2 separate regions of the Homo sapiens genome follow, and region 1 is linked to region 2. The links come from fine-mapping of genetic effects on gene expression. A gene starts in region 2. The other region holds a variant in brackets. All regions are shown on one strand. Distances are from middle to middle. Region 1 has its middle 7.8 kb from the start of P2RX5-TAX1BP3. Region 2 holds the start of ITGAE (integrin subunit alpha E).

The links. PIP is the estimated chance that this variant, and not a neighbour inherited with it, causes the effect.
Region 1: its variant is fine-mapped to the expression of ITGAE in platelets (CEDAR, PIP 0.95).

What each region holds. Positions count from the first base shown.
Region 1 is chr17:3,702,725-3,705,626 of GRCh38, reverse strand. It overlaps a transcript of P2RX5 not described here. Among named protein-coding and RNA genes, the nearest start is that of P2RX5-TAX1BP3, 7.8 kb to the right of the region's middle. The variant T/C (reference allele first, on the strand shown) is at 1,369.
Region 2 is chr17:3,799,739-3,802,640 of GRCh38, reverse strand. It overlaps ITGAE (integrin subunit alpha E), which reads left to right and starts at 1,453. Exons shown (of 31, transcript NM_002208.5): 1 at 1,453-1,530. The coding sequence starts at 1,497. NCBP3 (nuclear cap binding subunit 3) reads left to right here. Exons shown (of 13, transcript NM_001114118.3): 13 at 1-483.

The sequences.
Region 1 (2,902 bases), 97 kb after region 2:
GAAGGCCTTTCCTGCTTGACAGATATGTACCCAACTGTGACAGCGAGGGAGAAAGCAATGAATTCTCTAAATGGTACAGATCCTATCGTGTGGACATTTGGAGGAGGACAGCAATTGAGGAGGCCTTCATGAAGGAGAGAGACACCTGTAAGCTGACCCTCGAAGCCATGAAGAACAGAGGAGAGATCCACCTGGGCAAAGGTAGGGAAGCTGGACACTGAAAACTATGGTAAAGCCCACGAGCCAAGCTGGCTGAGGCTGAGTGTGCAGTGGGGACTGTGTAGCTGGGAAGGCAGGTAGGACTGTGCATTGGATCCGAATCGTGTACAGGGAACTATGGGAAGACACGGGCATTCGTGGTATTTGATACGTGGGTTTCACACTCATTGCATTGCCACCATTCTCACACTCATTCTCATTGCATCACCACAGTCCTGGAACTTGGGAGTGGAGAGGAGCGGATGCGTGTGAGAAAGTTCACACATGCTGTGGGGGAAGCCAGCGCCGGGAACTGGAGTTAGAACAAGATGTGCGTAGCTCTAAGAGGTACCGTGGTAGACTTGTCACTGCTTTGTGGATTTGGTTGACTCGAGTTTGATTCTTTATCCTCTCTTTTTTTGAGACGAGAGTTTTGCTCTTGTTGTCCAGGCTGTAGTACAATGGCATGATCTCCGCTCACCGCAACCTCTGTCTCCCAGGTTCAAGCGATTCTCCTGCCTCAGCCTCCCGAGTAGCTGGGATTCCAGGCACGCATCATCACACCCAGCTAATTTTGTATTTTTAGTAGAGACAGGTTTTCTCCATGATGGTCAGGCTGGTCTCGAACTCCTGACCTCAGGTGATCCGTCCACCTCGGCCTTCCAAAGTGCCGGGATTACAGGTGTGAGCCACCACACCCGGCCTGAATCTTTATCCTTTTTAGTGCCCAGTGGACTAGCATTTGGCTCTTTACTCTTTCAAGTGTTTACTGTCTCAGTGGAATTTTCCTCAGTTCAAATATTGGGCGCTGGGTACTGAGTACCAACCCATCAATTACGGTGGGTCACACAAGGTGCTGATGGGCACGGAAGTGCCTCCCACAGAGAGGAGTGTCCTGCCTTCTGTTGACTGCATTTACATGGCGTTAATAATGCATCTGCCATTTAAGTGGATCAGTAATGTCTATTAATGGGATATGTCCGTCATGGAAGGACCTCAGCAAAAGGAAAAGGGCGAGTTGCCTTGGGAGGCTCTTGGTGAAACTCTTCCCGTACCACCCCTGCCCACTCTTGTCTCTCTGGGCCACCCAGCTCCTCAGGACTCGGCAGGAAGGCTGGGTCTGCAGCTGGCCCCCTTATCGCGGAATGACCTTCTGTGCCCCAGGAGAGA[T/C]TCAAATCTCCTCCTTCCAGGCCTTCCTGCTCCTTTGAGGTGGGAAATAGAATTCACCATAAGGAAGTAACATCTGAACCTCTACTCCAAGAACCATATGATTTTATGGGATTTGGGTTTTGTGTGGTTTTTTGGGTTTTGTTTGTTTGTTTTTTTGAGGCAGAGTTTTGCTCTTGTTGCCGAGGCTGGAGTGCAATGGCGTCATCTCAGCTCACCACAACCTCTGCCTCCTGGGTTCAAGCAATTCTCCTGCCTCAGCCTCCCGAGTAGCTGGGATTACAGGCATGTGCCACCACGTCCGGCTACTTTTTTGTATTTTTAGTAGAGATGGGGTTTCTCCATGTTGGTCAGGCTGGTCTCGAACTCCTGACCTCAGGTGATCCACCCACCTCGGCCTCCCAAAGTGCTGGGATTACAGGCGTGAGCCACCATGCCCGGCTGGGGTTTTTAAATGTTGTTTATTTTCTGTTTTGTTTCCTTTAATTTTGTGGGGAATGTTTTTTGGGTTTGTTGGAATCTCAGGCTAAGGGGGAGGTGTTATTTCACCCTCACCAGAGCTGGAGGGGAAGAGAGAACCCACGTGTCTTCAGAGGCTGCAGGGGTGACCAAGGGACACCTCCAAGCTGCTGCTGGGAACAGTGATGCTGTTGGCAACTCTCCTGCAGCTGACATTTTTCCTCTTGGAAGCACTTCATCCCATAGGGAAATGAGGAGTTTTCTTTTTCTTTTTTTTTAAAGTATCCCTCTGTGTCACCCAGGCTGAAGTGCAGTGCCATGATCTCAGCTCACTGCAGCCTCAATCTCCTGGGCTCAAGCAATCTTCCCACCTCAGCCTCCCAAGGAGCTGGGACCACAGGTACTTGCCACCATGCCCAGCTAATTTTTTAATGTTTTTTGTTTTGTTTTGTTTTTTTAGGTAGAAACAAGAGTCTCACTTCGTTGTCCACGCTGGTCTCTAACTCCTGGGGTCAAGTGATCCTCTCACCTCAGCCTCCCAAAGTGTTGGGATTGTAGGTGTGAGCCACTGGGCCTGGCCTCGTTTGTTGTTGAGTTTTTCTATTTGAGGAGTAATTCCCCTGTCTCTAAAGGCTCAGCCCATTGCACCATACATTCTCGCTTTTCATCTATAAAATGTGTAGAAGGAACAGATACTGGTGTGGGGAAAGCTTGGGATCAGAGGCAGGAGAGTCTGGTTTCCCCCAGGTGAGGCCCCCAGCACATTTCTTTGGAGGAGGGGAGGGCTCTGTCTGAGGCTCCCTCGTAGCTTTTACTGGATACATTTGGGAGTCCACCAGGATTTTATCAGAGACTGTCCCAGGTCTCAGAGCAGACCAGGATGTCCCAGAGTGGGTCCAGACCACAATAATAGACTTTAAAATGCTGGCAAGTCTTAGGAGCAAGGGAGATGATGTAAAAAGAAAATGGCAGGCTGGGTACAGTGGCTCACGCATATAGTCCCAATGTGTCTGGAACTGGTTCCTTCCGGTGGGTTCTTGGTCTCGCTGACTTCAAGCATGAAGCCATGGACCCTCGT
Region 2 (2,902 bases):
GAGCCCTGGAGCGCTGGGAAGACAGGCTGTAGGCCGCAGGCCCCGATCCTGCCTGGGACGAGGTTCAACAGAAGTAGGATGGTTTCATCATGACCTGGCAGGAAAACCACCAGACCTGGAATTTTGCTTTTACAACTGTTTAACTTCTGTTTCATACAGGATGGAAACCGGTGAATTGTAATCTCACATAACCGAGCAAGATCTAGTAGTCATAAGCACTTTGTCAGAGCAAAGCAGACAAGGCAAAGTGTTGGAAATGTCATCGGATCTTCACAGAACCTTAGCCAAGCAGCCTTTCAATGCGAGAAACAAAATAACATGGATTTTTATCTAGTAATGAAGTCAACACCATTGTCCACCCTGGGTTAACACATTCACATCTCAAAGCGAATGGGGCTGCAGACACTCGTGTTAGAGAGCCTTGGAATGTCCTGCCTTTTTACGTTTAATTAAAATTAAATAAAATATACAAAATTCAGTTCATCAGTTGTTCTAGTGGCATTTTAAGGGTTTAGTACCATATGTGGCTCATGAGTACCATCCTGGACAGCGTCGACCTAGAGCAGTTCCATCCCCGCGCAGAGTTCTGTTTGACGGCGCCACTCTGCACTTCCAGCAGCCTGGGGAGCAGGGGTGCAGGAGAGTTCCTTCTGTGTCACAGACTTGGTCACACAGTACAGATCTCAGATCAGCACTTAAACACGACTGCCAGCTGTCAACGGCGTGTTCTGTGGAATGCTGGGATGCATCACAGGTATGCTGGAAGATGTATAGAATTTTACTTCTGTTATTCTGGTAACTCAGAGTCCTGTTCAGTCAGTTTCCACGTCAGGTTGCTGTCCTGGTTTTAAAGAGAATGAACGCAGCCGAAGTTGAATCGAGGCAGTGATTTCACTCAGTGCGTTGGGTCTTTCCACTCACCTGGCCCTCCAGAACCCCAGGGCCTTGAGTGCATGGGCTGGTACAAGAGCCCAGTTTTTGGCTGGGGAGGCACTTCCTATGGGAGGGGGACGCCTGTCTCAGTGCTGAGGCAACCACCACCGAGGACCCTGGGCTGGAAGCTGGGCTGAGATGTCTGGTGGTAGGTTCTGAGGCAGGACAGGGGACCGACTCAAATGGATGATACGAACGGCAGGCTGGATTCACGTTGCTCCTGCACCTCCAGCATCTGCTGAGGACACCTAGAACTGTGGCCCTGGCCAAACCTCAGCTCCCTATTCCATGAAAGTGTGGGTCAAAGTGTGGGTGGTAGAGTGGGGCTGACAGTGGCCCCTAAGCTCCTAGGGTCCAGCCCACAACTGAGGAAGCCACACGGCTGGTTGTGTACGAGCCGGAGTGTCTCTGTTTGGTTGAAAGTGCCGGTCTGTGGGTCCTTGCTGGTGTGTGTGCTTCTGTCCCCGCCTCCTGGCCTCCTGGCTGAGGGGAAGCTGAGTGGGCCACGGCCCATGTGTCGCACTCGCCTCGGCTCCCACACAGCCGCCTCTGCTCCAGCAAGGATGTGGCTCTTCCACACTCTGCTCTGCATAGCCAGTAAGTCCTCTCACCCGCTGCTTCGAGGGGCTGCTGTGCCCTCAGCTCCAGCCAGGTGTCTGCAGACTACAGCCTTGACTGTCTGTCTCTGATGGGGCTCAGTTAGAGCCAGAGGTTAGAGAGTGGCAGCTCCTCCAGGAAAGGAGTCTTGCTCGGTGGGTCAGGGCCCCAGGCTTGTTGGGAAGGGCGGCTGAGGCTTCGTGTTGCCAGTTCTGTCAGCCAGGGCCTTTGGACTCCAGGGCTCTGCCATTCTGTTCCTCCTCCAGCCAGCCTCCCCCCGCCACCGAGGCCCTCTCCCCATGGCACCCACTTGGGGCAGGTCCTTGACTCTGTAGTTTGTTCTCTGAGTGTGGAGGCTCCGCCTGGCAGAGCTCCCTTCTGTTACAGAGCAGGGGTTGGGCTGATGAGGGTGAGGACCCTGTGAGAGAGTGTTGACCAGAGACTGGGGGCAAGTGTCTGTATGGTAGAGGGTGTGAGTGTTGGCAGGGAGCCTGCTTCCTGTGTTGTCAGGCCCAGGGTAAAAACTGGAATGTGGGGTGGGGGGAGGCACTTCTGCTGCCTGGGGGGTCCCATTTTAGCCTTTAACTGTCCCATGGAAGCCTCTGGGCAAGCCAAGCCATGAGTCCTTTCGGGGGCCCCCTGTGATGAGACAGCACGGTCAGGTGAGCCCCTGGAGGCTGCTAAGATTAAGCCGGAGGCCAGGGTGGTCCTGCCTAGTGATCTGAGCAGACTTCCCATGGGTCTCCTGCCCCTGCTCAGGAGGTTGGCCGGAGAATTGGATGGGCATCAAGCTTATGTGGATGAAAGGCTCCTGGTAGCTGAGTTCTCCCTGAAAGATGGGCTGAGGCTGTGCTGGGAGGGGACTTGGGATTAGCATCCCACCTGGGGCCAGATCACCCAGGAAGCAGGCCACAATGTGTAGGGTACCAGCAAGGAACACGTTTTTGGACAGATTTTAATATTTTATATTTCATTTTATTTTATTTTATTTTTTGAGACAGAGTCTTGCTCTGCTGCCCAGGCTGGAGCCCAGGCTGGATCTTGGCTCACCATAACTTCTGCCTCCCAGGTTCAAGCAGTTCTCCTGCCTCAGCCTCCCGAGTAGCTGGGATTACAGGCGCCTGCCACCACGCCTGGCTAATTTTTGTATTTTTAGTAGAGACAGGGTCTCACCATATTGGTCAGGCTGGTCTCCTGCCCTCAGGTGATCGACCTGCCTCGGCCTCCCAAAGTGTTGGGACTACAGGCATGAGCCACCTTGCCCGGCCTAATATTTTATATTTCAAAAACATCAGAATAGTCACCATGGAAAGGTCAACAGTTTGTTGAACTTCCTTTTATTTTACAATTTAGACTTCTCTGTTTTTAGTTA